Linked DNA regions of Homo sapiens. The protein of the gene in region 1 purifies or fractionates together with the protein of each later gene. This does not show direct contact. Each region holds a gene or a part of one and is shown on either strand. Other genes may lie near its edges. The genes, in order: SLC43A3 and ATP11C.

Evidence for each region.
Region 2: the proteins of SLC43A3 (region 1) and ATP11C purify together in Homo sapiens (affinity purification with mass spectrometry; 2 studies listed by BioGRID and IntAct, with this or other methods). This does not show direct contact.

The regions. Positions count from the first base shown.
Region 1 is NC_000011.10:57,424,122-57,436,702, forward strand, and holds the start of SLC43A3 (equilibrative nucleobase transporter 1), read right to left. Parts: upstream 3,001-12,581; 5' UTR 2,941-3,000; exon of another isoform or gene 2,765-2,940; intron 2,532-2,764; 5' UTR 2,467-2,531; intron 2,269-2,466; exon of another isoform or gene 2,232-2,268; 5' UTR 2,052-2,231; coding exon 1,868-2,051; intron 1,589-1,867; coding exon of another isoform or gene 1,550-1,588; coding exon 1,420-1,549; intron 1-1,419. UniProt on the Homo sapiens protein: Sodium-independent purine-selective nucleobase transporter which mediates the equilibrative transport of extracellular purine nucleobases such as adenine, guanine and hypoxanthine.
Region 2 is NC_000023.11:139,724,509-139,736,246, forward strand, and holds the end of ATP11C (phospholipid-transporting ATPase IG), read right to left. Parts: intron 8,018-11,738; coding exon of another isoform or gene 7,928-8,017; exon of another isoform or gene 7,927-7,927; intron 7,248-7,926; coding exon 7,146-7,247; 3' UTR 7,143-7,145; intron 4,455-7,142; coding exon of another isoform or gene 4,392-4,454; 3' UTR 1,840-4,391; downstream 1-1,839. UniProt on the Homo sapiens protein: Catalytic component of a P4-ATPase flippase complex which catalyzes the hydrolysis of ATP coupled to the transport of aminophospholipids, phosphatidylserines (PS) and phosphatidylethanolamines (PE), from the outer to the inner leaflet of the plasma membrane.

The DNA.
Region 1 (12,581 bases):
GACTTGACCGCACCCTCAGCCTGGGATGCAACGGGCACTGATGCCTCTGAGCCCCAGGCTCAAAACCAGGCGCAAGAAGCCGCGATGAGATTGAGATGTGGTCCTGACCTCATGGACAGTGCATTTTGCTCATTCTGAGGCCCAAGGCTAGCATGGAAAGTCTTGGACAATGAGCTCAGCTGACGATGTGATTGGCTTGGGACTTAGCCAGGACAGAATGGGCAAAGCGAAGGTCCTCCCACCTGGAAGCCCCAACAGCCCAACCCCTTGGAGAAAGGGGTTAGTGCCTGGTCTGCAAATCAAGGCCTTGAGTTCTAACTCCTCCTCACTCTGTGACCTTGGGCAAGGCGCTGTCCTTCTCTGGGCCTCAGGAGCCTTTTCTATAAAAAGAAATGATCGGACTGATCTAGCTCAGAGTGCTATGATTTCAGGACTACAGTCCCAAGGTTATCAGGCTCCCTTAGCATTTGGGGGTCTTGTAAGGCATGGAGTAAAAAAAAAAAAGCAATATCCTAAGGCTGGAGAAGAGGGAGGGGACAAAGGAAGGGGAGGAAAGGGGAGGTAGCAGGGAGCCAAGGACCAAGAAGGACTGAGGTACAGTCATTCTGCATCCAAAGGCTTAAATTGTAAGGGACTGGCTTTACTCTGGCTGTTTCCGGAAAGGCAGGCCCAGCCAGCCCTCCCGTCTCTCTCTCTGACAGCCAATCTCACATGTGCCTCCCTGGGAGCACCTGCTCTGAGCTGTATCAGCCCCCAGCAGGCCGCTGATTACCACTGAGCCTGGCCACAGAGCACGAGATTAGGATGCAGCAACACACTGTGTGTGAGATCACGTCCCGAACCTTCTGACTCATCTGCACAGGAAACCCCCCCAGTCTCCCCTCCAGTCAGAAGGGACCTGAAATTCCACCAGTGGCAATACCAAAGAAACTTCCTATTAGCTAAGCCCCTAGGGAGTGATTGGCTGTTGGGGCGGGGAGGGGGGGCGGTGAGGAGGATGAGGATGAAGCCTGGGCAACCTGGATGTGAGGCTGTGCAGGGGATGAGGACAAGGATCCTTGGGGTGAAGGAAGAGAAGAGCAATTTTAGGTTTTGCTAATTTTGTAACCCTGGCTCCAAGCCAGCCCTTACAGGAAGTCACCCTGGCCTCCGGCTCAATTCAGCACGTGATAGGGAAGCCACATTTATGCAGAGCAGGGAACGAGGTAAGGAAATGGAAGTGGGGCTGTGGTGAAGTGGGCAAGTCTAGAGAGAGTCCCGCTGCCTGGGGCTGTTCCTAACAGCTGCTGGGAGCGAGCTGCAGGTGTGGTGCCTGGCAGGGTGGCCGGGCTGTCTGACTCTGGATTTCACTCCAAGCTAGGCTGCTGCCTGAAGGATTCCTCTTACCCACCTTTGCCTGGGCTGGCCTTTGGGACTTACATGGCTATGAGGCGTGCCACGGTGGTCTTGAACCGGTCAAAGATGTAGCCAGTGGGGAATGTCATGAAGTTGTTCATGAAGGACCCCAGGGTGAAGATGAGTGAGAACCTCTCATCCTGGGCTTTGCAGTCTGGAGTAGAAAAAAGGTCTCCCATGCATCCCAGCCTTCCTGCCAAATGAGCACACAGGCTGGGCTCCCCTCCACCTCAGACAGCTTGTCGGTCGCAAACTTGTCCCTTAAGCTGAGTTGAAATGTGGCTGCCCCTAATTACCCCTCAGGAGCTGGTGCCTCCCTCCCAGGCACTTCCCAGATCAAGTGGGGTGAGAGCTGCTGACCCTTCCTCTCATCATAGAAAGAGGGGTGGGCAGGGGGCAGAGTCCTTCCTGCTCCTTGCCACCACGTGGGAGCCAGACTTAACTTCCTTAGAAAAGTCATCCCTGCCCTTACCAGCCTGCCCTGTGGCATTGCCAATCGGCCCAGCATCTGGTCCACACAGATCCTTAAAGTAATCTTCATTCTTGAAGACAAACACTAGTGAAGGCCAGCCAAAGAGGACGCCAGCAAAGCCCAGGCATTCCAGCAGCCCAGTCAGCAGTGTGGCCACGTGCAGGGGCAGGCCCTGGCCCGCCATGAGCAGAAGTGGAGTGGATCTTCAAATCCCACTTTGTCCTCCTGGACGGATCACAGGCGCCGTAAGCCTGGCGTTTGAGCACTTGGAAAATTCCTCTGGCAAGCCAAGCCCTTCCTTTCCCGTAGCTCTCTGGTTGTTTCAGGCCTGGGCAAAAACCATCAGCGGGTGATTCTCTGGATCCTGTAGAATAAAGATAGAGGCTGCTGGAAGAGGAGGCCTGCGGGAAAGGGAAAGGTAGACTAGAGTTATTTGTGAGGTGCATTAAGAGGCAGGATGATCATGGCCGCTGGCAGCAAATGTGGGGAATAAATACTCCAATACATCATCTTAGGCACTGCATTTGAGTAACCACGTGGCAAGTAGAGAGGCAGGTCTTGATGGCCACCTGGAGTCACAGGTGAGATAAACGACTTACCCAATAGCTCCCCGGGAGCAGGTGGAGAAGCGGAGCTCCTGCGCTCGAATTCTGAATACCGTCCCCTAAAATAATGACAGCAACTCAACCAGGTGCAGAGGCAGGGAGATTTCATACAGAAGACACAAACTCCCGCTGCCAAGTTGGTGTTATCTTCAGTTTACTGACAATGAAACAAAAGCTCCCATGGATTTCAGGAACTTGCCCAAGGTCACAGGGCTAGTTTAGTCACGACGCAGGCCATTCTACTGCCAGAAATACCCCCAACTCCCATGACCCTCGCCTAGGACTCGCAAACCTGGTCCCCGCCGCCCTTCCTCGCATCAACTTCTACCAGGAAAGCCTCCGGGGGCCGCTCCCCGCCAGCCTCCGCACCCCGCTCCAGCCTGCGGCCTGCCCTCCCCGCAGAGGAGCCCGAGGGGCCAGGCCGCGCTCGGCGCCCCATGGCGCCCGAAAGGGGACCCTTCGCCCTACCCGCCTGCTCCGCGCCGGGGCTCTCCGCGCCCTTTCCGCACGGGCCAGGTTCGCATTCGCGCCTCTCGCAGCCCCTCCCAGTCCCCTGCTCGCCTCCGCCCCCTCCTGCCCGCCCGGAAGGGGCTGGGGCAGACCTCCCACTCTCCATCACTTCCTTCTTCTTTTCCCTTGCTCACAGCCTCCCGCGCCCTTTTTACCTCTCCCTCTTGAAACTTCTCCCTCTAGAACCCCCTAGAACCCCAGCGGTGTCTTTCCCTCCCTCCTCGCTGCCTTTCAGCCTCCCAGCCCCCTTGCCTCTGCCTCCCCTAACCAAGTTAGTTGAATGCTGTTACTCGCTCAGGCCCACCTAGGGAAAATGTCACACCCAGCACCCAGAGGACACACAGACAGCACATGAGGGCATAGGGACACACACACTCTATTTGTGCATTTTGCCTTGACCGCTGGGTTGGCAGGGAACATATTTTTCCTATTTGCTCACCAGCTTAACCGTCTCTCCCAGTTTCACACTCCCAGAGCTGCCAAAAAAATCCCAACCACAGAATCAGGAAGCCAAGAACCAGGACTGAGGGCTTTTCAGAAACCATCCCCTGGAGGACTGCCCCATATTTTCACTCCCAAAAACCCCTTAGATGACTCCCTGCCTCACCCCCGCCCCCCAGGTTCTGAAAGAGCCTTCCCGCCAGACTGCATTGATTAACCATTCATTGCCCCATTTTTTATTAATCAAAGACATATATAATTGCTCATCGGAGCTTGTGATCAGCGTGAGGCCTTACTAAGCAGCTGCCTTACTATCCTTCCAGCCCAGAGCACGTGAGCTGACGTCTTCTTTGGCCTGTGTGGCCGTTTCCTTGCCAAAAGCTCAGTTTGGGGAGAGCTTCTTGCGTATTAGATGCAGTCTGCAGACTCCCAACCCCAGCTACCTGGATCCCCTGAGGGCCCAGGAACTCCAGCTATTCCAAGCCCACTCCTCTTTTTTTTAAGAGGAAGAAATAGAGGTTACGATAGGGGACAGCCAGAACTGAGGATTTTCCAGCTCACCACCAAAGCACAAAAGATAAAAGTCTGCAACCACCCTAGTGACTTGACTGAATGGAGGAAGGGTGGCTGGGGTCCTGTACCCCAAGCTACTCACTAGTTATACAACCTGAGGCAAGCTCTTTGGCTGCCCCACCTGTAAGACGAGGACAATAGTACCTTAATTATAGGAATTGTCATAAAAGAAGTATAAGATGGGTGTATGAGGTCCCTGCATGGCGCAGGTGCTATAGGCAGATTGTAGGGTAGTAGATTTTCTAGTCTGCAGTTATGTAGACAGAGCCAGAGAAGCAGCTCTGGGGAGGAATTTCAAAGGAACTTGCCCACGGTCATTCTACAAAGCTGCAGTACCTTCCCAACTCTGAAACGTATGCTCTCATCACCCCGTCTTAACAAACATTTGGACATTAGAGAAAACAAGTCTTTTCTTAAAATAACATTATTTATGGGAGAAAATCCACAAAAATATAGCATCCCAGGACAAACAGGGCTTAAGATGCAAGATTTTCTATTTTACTGCAAGACACAAAGACTCTGAAATTAATGCATGCCCTATCTTCTGCTCTGGCATACATTTTAGTCTCCTGGGGGGATCAGTAAGTGTGGAAGTAGCAAGGGAGAAACAGAAAAAAGTCAAAGTAAAGAGACAGATTTTAGAATGTTAATCTGCAGGAGCCTGCCAGAAAGATCTAGCTCATGGGCTATCTGTACATCCAGGACTGAAGCACGGGACACGGGGCAGGTCGTCCAGGGTTCTGTCCACCTTATCTTGTTACCTCTCTTGACTCTTAGAGCCTCCACTCCACATCTCCCATCAATGTCTGCAGAAGACGTGGCCTCCACTAACACAAGTCTTACTGAACTGATGGGACAGGAAATTAGAATATCCTCTGAACCATTCCCATGTTCTTTGGTTCGAATTCCAGCAGCTAGAAAAGGCAGATGCTATTCTGATCACTCTCCTGCGTGGCTCCAATGAGGATTAATGAGTAACATCAGAGAGAGAAGTGATTATAATAAGGTCTGACGGTGCACCCGATGTCTTCATCCTTTTCTCTTCGCCTCCTTCCTCATCATCTCACACCTTTTTTTTTTTAATTGACTGATTGGTTCAACAAATACATGTGGTACCTCAGGCTCTGTGCCAAGTGCCGGGATTCGTAGAGAAGAGATTCAGTGCCTGCTCTCAAGGGGCTCATTCTCTTGTGGGAGAGACAGACAAAGAAACCCAAGATTTCTGGAGTGTGGGAATGGTCTTCCAGGCAGATGCTAGCACAGCACATTGAAAGGCACGGAACCTCAACAAAACAATAACATTTAGGAACCAGCTAGAGCACAGGGTGGTGAAGAAAGTGGAAAGATTTGAGGCCAGCGTCGCCATCTAAGTGAGGGCATTAAGAATTCAGCCCACATCAATCAATCATGTCCTATTGATTTCACCCCTTAATATCTCTCCTATCTATCCGTGGCCACTGCTCTATGCAGACACTCATCATCTCTCACAGAGGCATCATCTGCTTCCAAGCCATCGCCATTCTCCTGCAAGAGTTTATTTCCATGGTTCCCACTGGATGGCTTCACTTAACTGCTCAAAACCCTTCTGAGGTCCAGTCAACTGGCTGGTAAGGACCAGTCCAGGGTCTGGGGATGCCAGCCATGAGACATTGCTTTGAGGGGAAGAGGGAGCATAGAACTGGATCTCCTGCATCCTACTGCCCAAGTACCAATGCTGGAGGTGGTTTTCCTTCCCATCATCAGCAAGTCTGGATATCCAGGATCCACCCTATGGATGTTTTTATGGACAGAGTGGGAAGATGGATATGTTTAGGTTAGGGAAAGAGGGTTTGCCAAAGAGGGCAGTATAAGTGAGCTGCACTCCATCATTCCCCTGGCACAAACAATGGCTAGTATCCTCTAGTCCTCAAGAGCACCACCTTCCAATGCAGTCCCTGCCTGTCCACAGACCTCTCTCCTCAAACTTCCTCTGAACAACCTCAGCGAGGGCAATTGCCACTCTCTGGGCAGAGTCCAGATATTCTCTCCTACCCTCTGACATCACTTTCTAAATTTGTATATGTAGATAAACTCTGAGCCATTCACATAAAGGGCTTTGATTTCGGATACGCCAAACACATAAACAAACAAACATAAGCTTTCCTTTCACAATGGGCTCATGTAAATTAAAATGTTTGGTTTTCCACCTACGGTCTTGAAAGGGGTTTCTACAGCCTGTTTTGGAAGTCAGAAAGCAAAAGGTAAATGCAAACATCATTTCACCTGCAGAGAAAATTCTAATCCTCTTGAGGCAGTGCCAAAAATAATACAAGCACACTGCTATCGAGCCAATTACTGGTATCTCTGAGCTTCCGTCTCCTCATCTATAAAATTGGAATCGAGCTGTATGGATTAAAGATAATGTATGAAAACTGCCCAATTAGTACACTATTAATAAATAGCAGCTACTGTTGTTAACAAATATTATTGACTTACTGGAAAACAAAGAGGAAATAAAGTCACATTTAGGGAGAATTTCAAAGTGTTCCTAACCTAAAAAAGAAATAAATTAGGGGGAAAACCACTAAGTAATGGGTGAGCTCAGTTTACCTTGCTTAAGAAGTCCCACCCTAGAGAACTGATCTCTAGATGACACCCAAATGCACTCAGTACAACCCCCCAAGACTGTCTGGGCTTAAGGCAGGGGCTTGGATTGTCCTGTAAGCTGTGGGAAGTCTGTTCATGAGCCACAGTAGACAGGAAGGGGATGGAGTCTTAGAGCTGGCTCTTCAGGGTATCTCCTAGTGTGTTCAAAGCAGTTCTCAGGAGGGTGGGGAACTACTACATAGCCAAGTAAATATGAGGCCTCCTTGCTCTGGGGAGACCTTTCTCTTTAACAGAGGTGAATCTGAAAGGATACCCAAAGAGGCACTGGAGGGTGGGGGCCACTCTGGCCCCTCAGAGCAGCCAGCTCAGCTTCAGTGGATGCTAGAGGCAGCAGAGGATCAGCCTGGATCAGCCTCCCTTTCACCATGCAGAAAACAGAGCTCCCCCACCAGACCAGATACTGGAAGCACTGGGCCAGGCCTAAGAGAAAGCAGAGCCCCAAGCCCCACCACACCAGGGCTTATGAGGCTACTGCTACCCACCCTCCCAAGCCCCAGCTCCACTTCTATGTTCATCAAGCAACTGTTTACTGGTAACTGCACTTCCCGATAGACTTTGCTAGAAAGGAATGCCTCAGTGCACTGACAATATCTAAACCTGCAACTCTAAGGACTAGGCTGGGGAACACTGTGTCAACATGGAGGCACGTCCTACCCCTGAGAAGAAAAATAAGGAATATCAATAATACCTGCTGGGCACTGAGCACTGACTATGTATCTGATTCGAAGCGCTTTTTGCTTAATCTGTCACTGAATCTCACGATAGGTGTTGTTATTAGCATCTATTATCTGGGCCAACTGAGGCCTAGAGGGACGAAGCAACTCCCCCAACATCACCAGGTAGCAGTGTCAGGACTGGGATAGAAACCTGATGCTCTGACTGAAACTAATGCTTTTTTTTTTTTTTTTTTTTTTTTTTTTGAGACAGCATCTCACTCTGTCACCAAGGCTGGAGTGAAATGGTGTGATCTCAGTTCACTGCAGCCTCCACTTCCCAGGTTCAAGTGATTCTCCTGCCTCAGCCTCCCGAGTAGCTGGGATTACAGGCGTGCACCACCATGCCCAGCTAATTTTTTTGCATTTTTTGTAGAGATGGGGTTTCGCCATGTTGGCCAGACTGGTCTCAAACTCCTGGGCTCAAGTGTTCTGCCTGCCTTGGCCCCACAAAGTGCTAGGATTACAGGCGTGAGCCACCATGCCCAGCCAGCTGATGCTCTTAATCTGTGCCCTACCCAGCCTTCCTGGGAGGCTTCCCAAGAGCTACACAGAGCATGAGTTCTGGAATCGGGTTGATGGGGGTACCAGTTATTACTAATAGGAATGAAGATGGGTAATTCTTTCAGACAGCACCCTTGATTAAAACAAGAGAGTAGTGCTGCCTCTCTGTGATTCTGTGTCTCCCTGCCCTGCTCACACAGACACCACACCCACCCACACGCATGATCATGAAAAGAGGAAATGGATCCAGGAGAAGGAGACGACTCCTGAGTGAAAACAACGGGGTTTTTCACATTGAGAGCTTTGCCCAACACCCCAAAGATGAAAAGAGCAGGAAACTGCTGGGGCCGATTGAACACTGGACTTTTGTTGTGGAAAAAGGCAAAGGGAAGCCGGAAGAGACTGGAACAGTTTCCATGGTGCTGGAGGATGGGGAAGTGGGTAGGGATTAGCTGGAGGGAGAAGGAGAAGCTGGGGTGGAGGGGAACCTCCACTTGCCAGGAGAGCACATGTAGGATGGGAACCCCAGATGATACTCAAGGCATGGCATTAGACCAGAAGCAAGTCTGTGGTGAAATTAGGGAAGGCTCCACTGCGGACTGTAGACAGAGCACTGGACAAGGAAGTGGGAGACCCAGGGTCCAGTCCTGGCTCTGGAGCCCCCTGGGTGGGCTGCCCCGGGCACCTTTCTCTCTTGGGGCCTCCATTCCTACCTCTGTGAAGCGAGTGCTGAACCTCTCTTAGCCCTGACTTGCTGAAATGCTGGGACTCTGTACAGAGGCTGACATTAAGCAGGGATCTGTCGTGGGGTGCTGCAATGTTCCTCCAGATGCTGCACGGGAGAGGGCAGAAAAGGCCTATATGGTGAGTCCGCCCTGGGAGCCTCTGCTTGGAAGCTGAAGTGGCCTGAGAGTGACTCAGAAACCACGGAAGTTCCCGGGGCTGATGGGTTCTTATAGATTGTACATGCAGCTCTCCTCGTGGGCTGCAAAACCGCAAGATGGGCTGTGACCACTCTCAAGGAAAGAGCCCTATCTGCAAAAAGCATTCTGCCCTCCAGGTCTTAAAGCAAACACAGACTCAATCCTTATTCCTTTTAAGACAAAATTGCCTCAGGGGCATCAGGGAGGCAGCAGGCCTCAAATGTGTGCCTTTCTAGAATTCTCAATGAAAGCACCCTTTTGGGTATTAATAATGACAACAGTAATGACAGTCATTTACTGAGTGCTGCTTTTGGGACAGGCATTGGGCTAAGAGCTATATGTAATATATATTATTATTTGATGCCCACAGCCACCCCATAAGGAGGCGGAGGTACTATCATTATGCCAACTTTAAAGATGAAGAAACTGAGGCCTCAAGAGATGAAGTAACTTGGCCAAGTCACTCAGCCAGTAAATGGGAAGAGATAGACTTCCCAGTATCCAGAGCCCATGTTTTCACCATTATGCTGAAGTACCTCTTTTCCTGTGCCAATGTGATCTGCCTCCAGGAATCCTGTCTTGATGTTCCCTTCCCCATACAGAAGTCCTCTCTGTGTCCTCTTCAGCCTGATAGTATATCTTTTCATACCATTCTTTGGACATCTCTGTTATACTACTCCAATGGTGTTCCCTCCCCTACCCCTCCCTGGGAGCTTAGTTGTTGTGATTAAGTATAGGGGAAATGACCCACACTAAACAAACTCATAAGAGACTGATTGATAAACCTGAAATGCAATTTATTAATTAACACTGAGAAATGAAACCACCCAGCAGATGGGAATCCTAAGGCTGACTGGTCAGCACAATCTCTTTCAGGAAGGACAGGCTTTTGGGAAAGGAAATCAATACCAGAAGGTTCTTTGTTGAGTACAAAGTCAGAGGGAAGGGAGTTGATGGATTGACACATAGGTGAAGCTTGACATACCTCTATAAAGCCTCCATCCTGCCAAGGATCAGAATATCCAAGGCAGGGAGCCATCTGGGTGTCCTCTCCTTTGGACAGTGCTGGATTTTTCTGGATCCTATGAAGATCTTACCTTTCTGGCTGCATTTATCATGATTGTGGAAGGCTTTTTGTTTCCTTGTTTGCTTAGATTAATTTCTGCGTATTTAATAGAACTGAAAGGCAATTTCCCATTGAGACCCACTGAAGAGGAATAATCAATACATACTAGTTGTGTTGCCCTTTGCAGAGAATTCACTTCTGTGTTGTCACTGTATCCTCATGCTTCCTTATAATGGAGGGACAGAGATGGTAAAAACATGGACTTGGAAGCCAGACCGTCTGGGTTTGAATCCTGGCTCTGTTACTTATAAGCTCTGCAACCTCGGGCAGATTACCTAAGTCAGTTTCCCCTTCTCTGAATTGGGGATAATAATAGCACCCACCTCAACATCTGTCAAGAGGATTCAATGAGGGAATACACATAAAGTGCTCAGAACAGTGTCTGCCATCTGGTAAGCAGTCAATACTTGTTAGCGATGATTAATAATTCATTTCATAGATGAAAAAACTGAAGCCTAGAGAGATAAAAAGTCAACTAAGATCATACAGCCAGTAAGTGGTGAAGATATCATTGAAAATCAAACTGGCATCCTTTAAGCACTAAAGTCTTTCCACAGACTAGTTTCTTACCCATTCGCTTTCATAACAAGCTGAAGGAGAGCTTGTTTAAAAATCAGGTATATCCACCCACCGGAATGGGTAAAATTTAAAAGAATGAAAATATCAAGGTGGAGCTTGGACGCAGAACAACTGGAGGGAGTAAGCAGTAAGAACCACTTTGGAAAAGTGTCTGGCAGTTTCGAAATAAGTTAAACAAACACTTAATGAATCAGCCAAGTTCAACCAGGGATGTGGAACCACTCTCTCTGTGGATTGCTACAGGGATTTGGCCTTACTCAATTGTAGGAGGTAGTTAAGCAATCTTGTAAGGCTATTATCTTTGCATGTCATGTTGCAGTTGAATTCCACAGGTCAGGCAACTGGGAAAGGAAGATGGATATAAAGTGGGCAAGACAGAGCAAACTGAGCCCCATAAGTATGAACTGGAACCCCATGAGGATGAACTGAAGCCTTTAAATCCACATCAGCTTTTGTTGTCTCTGTCGTTGTTAATGTATTTTGCAGAAGCCCGGGTTCATTGCATGGAGCTAACCACATACACACCTGCCCCAACAGTAGGCAACGCCAAAGGAGAAGCCAGCTCCATGCCAACCAGGTGTACCAGCAGTTCAGTCACAACATGTGTGAGCCAGAAACCGACTCCTGCTTCCCTTCCACCCTCCAGATTCCCTGAAGAGACACCCTCATGTTCCGCTCTAACCAGAAATACACAAAAAAGGGAATTCAACATAACCAAGTCAGCACATTACAAAGCCAACACACCTACCTTATGATCAGGTAATTCCACCCAAGATATTTACATAAGCGAAATGAGTGCATACGCTCACCAGAAGTAGTGTACAAGAATATCCATAGCAACTTTATTCATAACAGCCAGAACCTGGTAACAGCCCAAATGCCCACCGATAGGAATACGGATAAGCAAATTGTCCCGTAGTCACACGACGGAATACTGCATCACAACAAAAAGAACCAACCTTTCATACACACAGTGTAGATTAATTTCGCAGATGTGATATTGAGCAAAATAAACCAGATGCCAAAAAGTACACAATGTATATATATTTTTTCTTTTTCCTTTTTTTTTTTGAGACAGAGTCTTACTCTGTCGCCCAGGCTGGAGTGCAATGGTGCGATCTCGGCTCACTGCAAGCTCTGCCTCCCGGGTTCACACCATTCTCTTGCCTCAGCCTCCCAAGTAACTGGGACTACAAGAGCCCGCCACCATGCCTGGCTAATTTTTTTTTCTTTCTTTTTTTGTATTTTTAGTAGAGACAGGGTTTCACCGTGTTAGCCAGGATGGTCTCCATCTCCTGACCTCGTGATCCGCCCGCCTTGGCCTCCCAAAGTGCTGGGATTACAGGCTTGAGCCACCGCGCCCGGCCATATTTTTTCTTTTTTGAGGCAGAATCTCACTCTGTCACCTAGGCTGCAGTGCAGTGGTGCAATCACGGCTCACTTCAGCCTCAACCTCCCAGGCTCAAGAGATTCTCCTCTCTCAGCGTCTCAAATAGCTAAGACTACAGGCACGCACCACCATGACCAGCTAATTTATTTTTTTTGTAGAGTCGGGGGTCTCACTATGTTGTCCAGAGTAGTCTCCAACTCCTGGGCTCAAGTGATACTCCCGTCTCGGCCTCCCAAAGTGCTGAGATTACAGGCATGAGTCATCATGCCTGACAATGTATATCTGTGTGAAGCTCAAGAATGGGCAAAACTAATTGATAGAAAAGTTAGAATAGTGGTTAATTACCACCGGAGCAGGAGAGGTGTGGGTCTGTTACCTCTGCTGAGGAGGGGTATGATGGAGTCTGAGTTCCTGGAATGTGTCTTGATATAGGTGGTAGTTATATAGCTGTATAGATGTGTAAAATTTCACTGGGCTGTACGCTTAAGGTCTGTGCCTGTAACAGTATGTATGACATACTTTAATTTTTTTTTTTTTTTTTTTGAGACAGAGTCTCCCTCTGTTGCCCAGGCTGGAGTGCAGTGGCACAATCTTGGCTTACTGCAACCTCTGCCTCCCAGGTTCAAGCAATTCTTCTGACTCAGCCTTCCGAATAGCTGGGACTACAGGTGTCTGCCACCATGCCTGGCTAATTTTTGTATTGT
Region 2 (11,738 bases), on another chromosome or scaffold:
TAATACTAACATTTTGATGATTTGTTTATTCATGCCATCAGGGGTGATATAAAAATAGAAACACAGTGTCCTAGTTAAGTTCACAGACTCTAATCGGAATACCTGGATTCAAACTCTGGCTCCACCAGACAGTGTAACCTTGAGTATTTTTGGGACTCAGTATCCTCATCTGTCAGATGAAGAAACATCAGTACCTATCTCCTAGGGTTACTGGAATTACTAAAGGAATGAATACGTGTAAAGTGGTTAGAACAGTTCCTGGCACATATTAAGTGCTGTGTAAGTGTTAGCTAATGTGAGGAATTGGGTTTTGGCAACTGCTGAAGAGACCAAAGTAGCAGCAGGTATTTTAGTTATGTACATCCTTTTTGCTCAATCCTGCCCAAAGAGCCAAGGCCAAAGACTCACTGCCAGCAGGAATTCTGGCCCACCATGAGTGCACTGTTTCTCTCAGCCACAGGCCTCAGCACTTACTCCCAAAGCCCATGAGATGAGGACTTGCTTGATCCACGCTGCAACATTTCTTTAGCACAATAGGTCTACGCAATAGGAACTGAGCCCATGTTTCCTCGCCCATCAGTTGTTGGTAAAATTGTGTCAAATTAATTTTTTAAAAGTTGCAAAATAATTAAGCCCACTTTTTTCCCCTGATAACTATTCTCAGAACACAGGCCTTCAGACTTCATTAGTATGCATCCAGCACTTTGCCCATGGACACATTCACTGAATAACCATAGTGATAACCTCAGCCCTTAACCTCTGCCTGTGCTTCTTGTTGAAGGGGCCAGATCACTCGGACCCTCACAATACTCACTGTATTGGCCAACTGTGGGCAGACTAAGCAGTGAGGCGAAGAGGGAGCGCCCCATAAGGCTGGATGGGGGAAGGGAAGGAAGCTTGAACTGACTGATTCCAATAAGCCAAAATAACGTAAGACATCTATGAAAATGTGGTAAATGACAACTGTTCATTAAAAAATTAAGCAATAACAAACCCTTAACATAAAAGTAACAATGCCTACATATGAATAGCAAATGACATTTTACAAAGCAATTTTCATTCTTTACCTTATTTGCCCTGCCACACACCATCTTACAGGTGAGAAAGAAAAAGGATTCAGAGAGAAATGTGGCAAAGCTGATACTTTAATTCAGGTTTTCGCATATTTTCCACTTAATGAAAAAGAAGAAAATACACACTAAATATAGATCAAAGACCAACAGGATTAAAAGACTACCAAAACATAGAGACTGAAATGTAGAAATGCAATGAAACCAGTTTCCGTAGAGCAACTCTGGTTTCTTGGCAGTCAAGGACAGTGAGGTTTTTCAAGAAAAGGGACTTTCACAAGGTCTTGGGTGCAGGCTGAGCAATGTAAGAAGAGGTGGGGGAAGTGGTGTGCACACACACACACACCTTTGGACCAAGTTTCAAGCTACTGTAAAATCCCTTCATGTTTGACTGCTTAAGAATCAAATGAGTTCAATGGGTTGAAGACACAGACCACAAAGACCAAACATATGCTACCTTCAATGCATGGCTGGCATCAAGCACACTGCCAAGCACAAAGTAGACTTTCAATATGTATTTACTGATTTGGCTGGACTTTTATCTATGCAGTAACAAGGTACAGTGTTATTAAAAACTCCTACAAATATCTTACCCTCCCCAAATTAGGTATTGCCATAAAATACCAGTTGAACTCATGTAGAAATGGTCAAACTTCTGTCAATTGTGCAGGTCAAGAAGAAATTAGAAACTTAGTTCCCATCAACAAATTGCTTCCATATTATTTTAATGTCAAACTGAGACCTTTCCCAAAAAAAAGAGGCTGATATATCAATCATATCATACCAAAGTTTATTGATTACATCAAACAAAAATTTCTGTAATGGAAAAGGCAAGTTGCAGTCATAAAAGATGGCATTCACATTCATTTTAGAAAGCAACAACGTAGATGTAAAAAACTGCTTAAGTGAAAAATGTAATATTGCAGTCCCATTTTGCAAGCTGAAAAATGATTTTGTCAACACGCATAAAATCTGCACATTTATATACTGCATGTTATTAAAAAATTCCATCACTAAATTATTACGAATTTTGCAAAGTTAGGCTTACATTTATACTGTTGCTGGTGTATGTGTAAGTAGATATGGAATGAATGTTTTCAGTTTAGTAGGTAACATCCTCAAACAATGGACAGCGGTTGTGAAAATTACAAAGACATTTTGATAGCTCAAAATTATTCAAATTATAGGTAGATGATCTTATTATATTTTTTTCCCTTTCTCTGTCACAAATAGGGTGATTACATTGAGTGCTAGGAATACTGCATGGTCTATTTCAAGTTATTCGATCTGCTAACCCCACACTGGCCAGTTTTTAGCTCTTCAGTAAAATATCTTTTAAAAAGGAAAGCCAGGTCCCTCTCAAGGATCTAGGCCATGATATCATGTATCATTGCCATTCTGAATTTGAGCTGCAGTATCACAATGTAATGTGTAGCTGAGACATAACTCTAAATCCCCCTTACTCCTTGTCTTTCTTTCTTTCTGGCTGGAAGGAATTTTACATGCAACCAGTTATTTTTCTACTAGATTATTCTGTTAACTCTCCAATGGTACTGCATTAAACAAGCCTCTCTACTGTGGCTCTCTTGTCTGTATTCACAGTTCCCATAGATTTTATGTAAAACAGCAATCATAATACAGCAACAACAACCATAAGAACAAGAAAACAAACACAAAATATCAAAAGCTTTCCTGGGTTAGACTTTTTTAGCTCTTTGGAATAGGCAAAGAATATAGAGACTTTTGTTTTCAGCAGCTTACCTCAAATACGGGCTACCAGAACACAGCACACTTAGGTAAGTTGTGAATGACATGTAACAAAATGCTCAAAAATAATACTGATATATGAGAGCAAATGAAATAATGAAAAAGGGTCTATAATGATGGAATGGCTTCTGATAACTGAAATTATGTTCTTTTCTAGAATTTAGAAAAAAATCATACCTAAACATTAACACAAAATATATGTGGAAGAATCAAATGTGCCATATGGACTATATAAATATAATACAGATTAACTCCAATACTTTTCCAAATCAAGGTACAATATAAACATTAATAATAGTACAGGCATGCCAGAAAGACAAAAAAAAAACAAAAAAACTAGCAGTCAAATAAATATGGTCATTTATATCCAAAAAAGTATGTGTTTAACATTGAATGAAGACATTTCACATTTATGTTTCAAGTGAACTAATTAGAAGGCTAAACCTTCCTTCTAGTTCAGTTAGTCAAGGACTTTACTAAGGTCAGTTACATGGTTTAGAGTTAGACCATTTCCCTGTCCAAGTTAAGAGACAACATTCATCTTCACAGAGTCATGGCTCTACAAGCTGAACCACCGTTTTGGGGTGGCTCCTTCCCCCTTTCCAAATTGGCCAAGTTTAAGAAAAAGCACTGCATATATGCATAAATGCAATCTCTTTCAAATAAAAACCGTCAAAAGTTTAAAATAAGCTATATTTCTTCCTCTTCACATAAAATTATAAAAGGCTGATATTCAGAATGACCTTTATTTTTATATAACTATGGTTTAAACCACCTTACTGCAGATCCCAGTAAAATCAACACTGGAAAAATCTGTTTATTTTCTAACTACTTTGAGGGGCTACTAAGTGATTGGAAATGTTTTATACTTTATTTTCAAGTCTAGTAGGCTTACACCCATAAGTGGGGTTTAATTCAGAAGAATAAAAAATAAACAATTTTTTTCTATTCCCACAAAAATACCCGTAAGTTAACACTTTCCACATAAGCGTTCAAGGTATTTTTTTGGCAAGAATATTCTACCAAGACATTAGTAGCACATGGGTAAACAGAAGGGATTAACTATTCTGTCTGATGCATTGATACTATTTAGTTATTCTGTATTTTCAAGTATTCCTTATGTACTTGGGAAAAAAAATTAAGATGATCATTTAGGAGGAATGAGAAATGTGATCCAAATAGTCTATTTCTTCTGCCAGGCAAAAAAAGTAGTATTAGCAAAATCTATTCATTCTCATTGCATAACTTCTACTTCATACTATTGTATTTAAATCCATTCACAAAGTTCATGGGTTAAAAGAGCACCCATTTGAGTTATATTACTCTAACTAAAGCCAGAATTCTAAGTATTCTTGCTTTCAACTTTCATATAATTCTTAACTTACAGCTTTGGCCATAAAGGCTACTTACAATAATGGTAAATGCTTAAGAGAATCATTTGGTATTTTAATGAACATTTATTGTGAACTCTAGACATGAGAGTGGTTTAGTGTGTTGCGTATCAAGTATCCTGAGATGATAACTTTTTGTAGTTGTTTCTTCATGCTTTCTTTTTTAGCTGTAACCACTGTCAGTATGCTTGTAGGACAATAACATAGGCAGTTCAAGATTCGGATTCTGAAAAATGTAAAATATACAGATTTAAAAGGCTTATTTTAATAATGTGAAACCATCTGTTAAGCATTTTCAGAAATAAGTAGTAAATTTTGTTATGAGAGTAAAGCAACTGTCTTAACAAAGTGCCAAGTTTTATTCACATGCAGGGGAAAAAAAGAGTGACACTATAACCAGATTTTAATCCTTTCTTCATTTGTCAGCTGAATAGATTCAGGCTTGCTTTTTGCTTTTGGATTGTTCCAGGGTTCTCCTAATACTTTCTACCTCTGGGATTATTTACCATAGCAGAGGTTTAGCTTGCTGTGATCCCTTCTCCTCTAGGCTGGGAGGTCCTTGAAAACAGGAACATTTTATTTACCTTCTATCTCCAGCAGCTAGTAATAGTGTCTGGCACACAGCAGATACTCAGGAAATGTTTGATGAATGATTAGATTGCTGTTTTTCTTGATGTGTTAATTTTGACAGAGGAAGTCTGAAGATATATTCAGCTTTGGAAGATTATTGTGAAAATATTCTTCCTTTTTACTGAAAGAAGCATATTTCCCCCCTACAATATGGAAGTTAATTTTCCTTTTGGTAGATCATGTATCTATGAGTCGATTGATTCTTCTGTTTTTTCTTATGCTTCATCTTTTTGGAAGAGAAACCACGGATATTTCCCTATCAAATCTGTAGATTCTTCTCTGTCCTCTAAACATCATCAAATGCTATGATCAGGATGGTGCATGACAGACAAACTGATCATTAAGTGTAAGTCAAGTATGTTAAGAAATGGAAGTCATATGTCAAAACAGGGAGCCTGATTCTCCACTCTAAAACTCAATCTTTTTGAACCTGAGTAGTGGAAGGTCTTAAGTAGTATGCTATTTTCTTCCCATTCTGGGACACCTCCTTTGCCATGGCTGGACTAGAAGCTCATTAGAATACCTTCCATTTCTATTTATGTTCCACATTCTCCAGAACCACTAGTAGGTTTTCAGGTAGCTCTGCAGGGTCATGGTGACTCTAACCAAAATAAGGTTGCCATTCATACTGAGAATGTAACTCACATTGAGGAGTTAGGTAGTTTCCTTACCAACCAAGGAACAAACTAGATGCCTAAACTAGCTGCTAATTATTGTCTTTGGAGGAGAAATAATGCCACATGAAAATCTATTCCTGGAAGAAATAACTACATTAAAAATAAGACAATTGTTTTTAAAAAATACTTCCTCAGTTCTATGTTAGACATTGTAGGAGATAAGGCCCTGGAGAGGCCAAAAGCAACAGCAGTGTCTTCTATCCAGCCCAGTCCCCCAAACCACAGACCAAGCTAAAGAGAGCAATCCAGGGGGATACAAAATTAGCCAGAAACAATATAGCTAAAATGCATCACACAGCTTAGAACGAGGCAATCTGGGACAAAGGGGTCAAAGACCTTGAAGGTTACTTGTGAAGCAGATTCATTACTAAGGGAAAACATACTCAGGTAAGTTGTTCAAAAATGGGTAAAAAGATGCTAACTGTGGCAAAATGAGTCTGCTTCTAAAATAACAGTGCAGATGTAGACTGCGATGAACTCCAGGAAGACAGAAGAACCAATGGAGTCAATCCATTAATTTAACTTGTATTCTTTGCTAGAGGGTGGCAGAGTTGACAGCTGTTGAAAAAAATGGGCCTATAAGGTGGACTCGCAATTATTAGCTTCAAAGTGAACTAACCCACAATTGTATTCATGATGATCATTAATTTTTATGTGTGCATGAAAGATGGCCCTGCTTTAAGCTGTGTAGAGTTGTTTCCAAGCTGACAAGCTTGGAAGCCTTGTTCATTAATTACTCTAAATTCCTATGGATGGATAAAAGACCTCCAGAGGTCTGAGTTGTTAAAGGCCCCCACTGAAGGAAATACAGACTATACATAAAGGAGTCATTCTGAGTTCAAGGGGCCCTCCCACGGCGTATCAATTCCTCCCAAATATTTTTGGGGGTAAATGAAACATTATAAAGTGAATTTAATCATTTTTGGAAACATTAATTATAAAGCATTTTATATCATTAGGCAAGCATCCCCCTGAATGGCTATGAAATATTTTACCTCTGAAAGTTGAAACATTTAGCTTGAATAAAACTTGACATTAAAAAAGTTATGATTAGACTGGTTCATTGATATATATTTGGAGATCAGACATTTACAAGGACATAAGTGTATACAGTACCTGCAAACACACAGACACAGCACATGAAGGTACAAACACATTTAGTTATTTTCACATAATTCCCAAGAGAACATGCAATGCTAAATTGGCTTGATATTATACAGATGCAATTTTGGAATATTTACTTTTAGTTTTCCAAATGATCTTTATAAATCAAAGTTATATTTCCTGATCAATATTAACAAACATTTTCACATGGTGGCCTTGCCATGACAACTTGCCCCTTACAAATTAAATATGCTGTATCAACATTTGGCTCTGAAAAATGTTTAACATTTTATTTGGGGGGCTTATCATATTTTAATGTTTAATATTTTAAATGCATATTTCCCCATATTCCAAGTAATGCATCTTTATATTTTTGCAAAGAATATTGTAAAGTTCACCACACCAACAGCAGAGAAAATTTAGAGAGTGATATTTTCATTTTTTCTTTATAATGCTGTTAATCCGATTTTTTAAAGCCAGCCCATTTGTTTAACACTAGGTACCTGTTACAATACATTAGATTCGTCTGAGAATGTTCGTAAAAGAAGAGGTCTGACTGAAGGTCTGGCGGATAATGAGTCAGATGCCCTTCTACAGCTCAGATTTCTCTGTAATAGTGAGGCAAAGATACTTAAAGCATTTGAAAATTGGTTAACCTACCTGGTGATTATATATTTAAAAAAAGGTAAAAGAAAAAAATCATTTCCTATAGACTACTCCTCTGGCCAAAAGTACAAATGATTACACTATATAGTAAATGTATAACATTCAAATGAATACATTCAAAGGCCTAAGAAAGTCTCCAACTCGAATTGTTTTTGTGGTAGAAGTAAACAGACAACAGTAGTATGTAGTAAACTTGGGTTTTTGGAATGGCACTGGTAAGTAATATGGTAAGATGAGTCAATATGGTTTGATTAGTAAACCTTACCATCCTTTTGGTGAACACCTCTGAGAGTTGTGCCGGTGCCGTATTATCAAACAAAGAGAAATTTGTGCAAAACATTCCTGTCCTGGTGAACAGACTAGCTCTAACACGCCATGGCCACTGCATACCGTGGATCAATGAAGACTACAGACCCGTAGTCCAAGCTTTTAAAAATTACTTCCTCTCCAGTGTGACAATTTGGAAGGTGAACACATGATTAAAAGAAAATGACAAAATACTCTAAGCATCAATAGAAGATATAAAATGAGTCATGAGAAGTAATTTTTCATAAAGAATTAGAAAATGGTGTCAGGCAAATGAGAATGCAAGCAAGTTGGTACATTAAGAAAGGAAATCACCTTATTCACTCCAAGAGAAACTGTGATTGCTGGAAGTTTGAGAAAGCATGAAGATAGCAGATGTTCCTGAGGAAGGGAGGCGTTTCGTTACCTTGTTCACAATTGCACAAAAGGTGGAAAATTGCAGTAGAAAAAAGAGAAATGCAGAAACCAAAAAAAAAAAAAAAGTAAATAATCTCTCAAATGTAAGACATTTAAAAAGAAAACTTGAGAATTCGAAGCCGAAATGATATGTTAGTTTTGAAGACATTATTTTCTGAAGTAAAAGCAGAGTCAGAGATAGGAATAGTCTATTATTACGTGCCAACTACTATTTCTCTACATATCAATTTGAAATTATTTTGTTAATGGGAAAATTGACTATTTTAAATAAAATAGCTTTAAAATATGCTTCTCGTTAAAATAAGACTTATCTCTAATCATTAATTCACTATCCTACATTTGTTCAAAATCCATTGGTCAAAGAGTTATGTCCAGGGTCCATTGCCAATCACCAATCTATCTTGAAGTAATTATCTCCCCTATGCAACTGTACAGATACACTATGAAGGGACTGACTGCTCTTAAGCAGTTGCAGGATAAAAACTTAATCAAAAATAACAATGGGAAAACATTTGGTGATACCACATTTCAGTCCCATTTGCCTCTGACCAATGCTTAACTTCCTTTCTTACAACCTAATTTGATTGGTTTCCCTGTTTTTCCTACAGAGTCCTCTTTAGAAAGATAGGCTAAATTTTACCTGGGTAAGGTATTATTTTTTTTCCCCTTAAAACACCCAGAAAAGTGAAAATGGATAAAGTTTAACTGGCAAACCTAAGGTTATTTTTTTCCTTCTGATTCTGTGCCTGAAATTATAAGGTAATTTACAGACTCAGTTTTGGCATTGCCCAAGCAAAACAGAAGATGAGTGGTCAACAATGTGGATGACTTGAACAACTCTGCTAATAAAGATTACCCATATTGTCTACTTAGTGACCTAAAATGGGCTTAGAAAAAGAAACCAGCTAAAGTAACATTTGTTTCCAGAAGATTCTAATAAACAATTAAACTTTCAAAGGTAAATAATTTATTCATGTTTTGACAACTACATTTTTTCTTGTTTTTACCTTAAATGAAGAAAGTTGGTGGAATGAAGAAAGTTGATAGACATATTGATAGAATGCAAATTACCAATTGATAAAGCTAGAGAATATTTAGATTCTGAGAAAAAGATTTTAATTGTTTCTATCTTCTATTTTATGGGCAAAAACCCTGCGACAAGATCAGCATGATACCAAGTTCCCCACCCCCGTGTTTAATGCACAAACCTATCTATTCAAGACTGCAACTGTAAGCACGTTTTGGTGTGCTCAAACACTTGTATCCAACCATCGGAGATAAAAGTATTTCTATGAAGCAGAAATATTAGGAGTTAATAGATTAGGTGTTAAAACTACTTTATAAAGGAAATGAAAGTACAGAAAGCAGGAGAAAGCATGGAAAGAGTAACTAAAGCAATAAAAAAATTGATATAGCTAGCAACCGGCAGTGGGGTGGGGTAAACAGGAGATAATGAGCTAAAACAGAATGAAATTTCCACATTCCTTTGCAGTCATCTAGAGAGCTTTGACACCAGCTCAATTAGCAGTATGTCAAAGAGGCCAATGGATAAAGGCCCATCTCAACAGCCACGACATTAGGATTAAACTTTATTTTTGTCTAATCCAGCTAACAGGGCTATTGCCCTGTGAACCCATGGTTGTATATGACACTGTAAGAATCATAATAGTAATCATCATTATTATAATGATTAACTATATTCTCCAAAATTTCCAAAATGCTTTCTCTGGGACTTTGGCTCAGACAGTTGACATTCTTCCCTTCCCTGTCTACCACTCTGAAAGAGTTCTCTACATAATGGAATATTTCTTCCTGTTTGTGCTGACATCCCATGCTAAGCACGGCCATGTTGCTGGGTGCATTCCCATTAAATTATAGTCTTCCTTTGTCAAGCTTCAGCGAAGTTAAGCCTCCTTTTTGATTGTGGTGACTTACATGAGAAAACTTCACACAGGATATGTGGAAATTTCTCCATTGGAAATGTGAAATGGTATTTGCTACTTGGCCAGAAACTCCAGATATATTTCATTGATTTACAGACAGCCAATGACTGTGCTTAGGGGGGACACAACTTTTTGAAATACAAAAATCCTATACTTGACCTTTCCTTGAGGTGTTATCCTGCTGTTTCACTGTTCAGTGCTCAATGGTAGTTTCATCATATACCCTCAACAGCATTGCTATGCAGCTTTGTCACTTCATAAAGCTAAAGAAAAGCTCTAGGATCCTTAATAACGGAACTTTGGGGAAAAAAATTAACCTCATTGCTAAAAATACAGCTGATGGATACATGGCTTAACTACAACCCTTGAGTTAAACAACTGAGAGAACCTACATTTGAAGATACTGGAATTCTTTCTAATACTAGCATTATGACAGAACTCAGTTGCAGTGGAGGCTGCCATACTAGCGATTTTACTGGAGGTTTCAGGAGGTAGTGACTTGAAATAGCTCAATTGTGTTAAAACAAGCCACATCACTGATTCTGCTATTCTGTTTAATACCTGCTTACAGAAGTATTCCATATGAATGCTCCTTATAACCAGAGTGAGAGCTGCTTGTGAGCTAGGGCCACATCTGATTCATCCCTGAATTACCAACACCTAGTACAGTAGCTAACTCATAGTGGGCCCTCAGGCAAGGTATGCTGAATTGAACAGAATTCAGCATAAGGTTGCTCTTATAATTGTTAAATATAAATAGCTTAGCTTCTTTCTCAAATGCCATAGAGACATTTTCACTACACACTGCTAAGTCCCCTTCTCAAAGCAGCTGCCAAGACCCACATAAGAACAGCACTGGCAGCTGACCTGCCACATTTCTGGCTGTGTACATAAAGTGTCCACGATACTTATTGGTTGAAGTCAGGGATTCTTCTACTCTAGGTAGAGACACACATTTGACCACATCGGGGGATCTATCAGGATATGGGGCAGACCCAGTATCTTTTGCCTCTCTTTAAAATGAGGCCAATGTCTTAGCAAGGAATACAGAACAAAGTAGGAAATCACACAGAGTGTCAGACTGTTGGTCACTGAGCATAAAGACTAAAATATTTGGGGGAAAATAACATACTCTTTCTCCCTTATCTTAGAAGTTGGCCTCCACCTCTTTGATATAGCCAAATAGGGCCTTATATAAACAGATGTGATTTATCAGAATAGCCATGGCTGCCATGTTGCAGTAGGCCTCTATGCATTCATATTGCACTACTTTGCTCTTGCATTTTCTCATAAGAAAAAAAAAAAAGAGGCAGCACTGCTGAGTGCCCACAACATTTTGCCTCATTTGCGACTCCTGAAATCCCAGAGTCTGAAAAACCATCTAGCCTTTCAGACATTGGATGTAAAGAGAGATGTTCATCAGTAGGTGGTTCAACAAATGTTTATTGGTTCAACAAGGGTAGGAATAAATGAATGAATGATTGCATGAATGAAAATGATTATGGAAATTTTCCTGGTTGTTCTAGCATATCAGCATGCCAAGCCATAGCACAGACACTAGAATTCTTCCTACGCTGGACATAACCCATAACAAATTTCATGCTAAACCCCTGGCAACAGTCTATGCTGCTAAGTAAAAAAGGACGCAGTCCCAGAACTCCGTACTTTCAACAGAAGTTCAGAATCTGTTCGTGTGAAAAAAAAAAATGTTCTAAGTCTTTATCTGTGACTGCTTAGTAGCATCCCACAATTTAATGGTCTATGTAA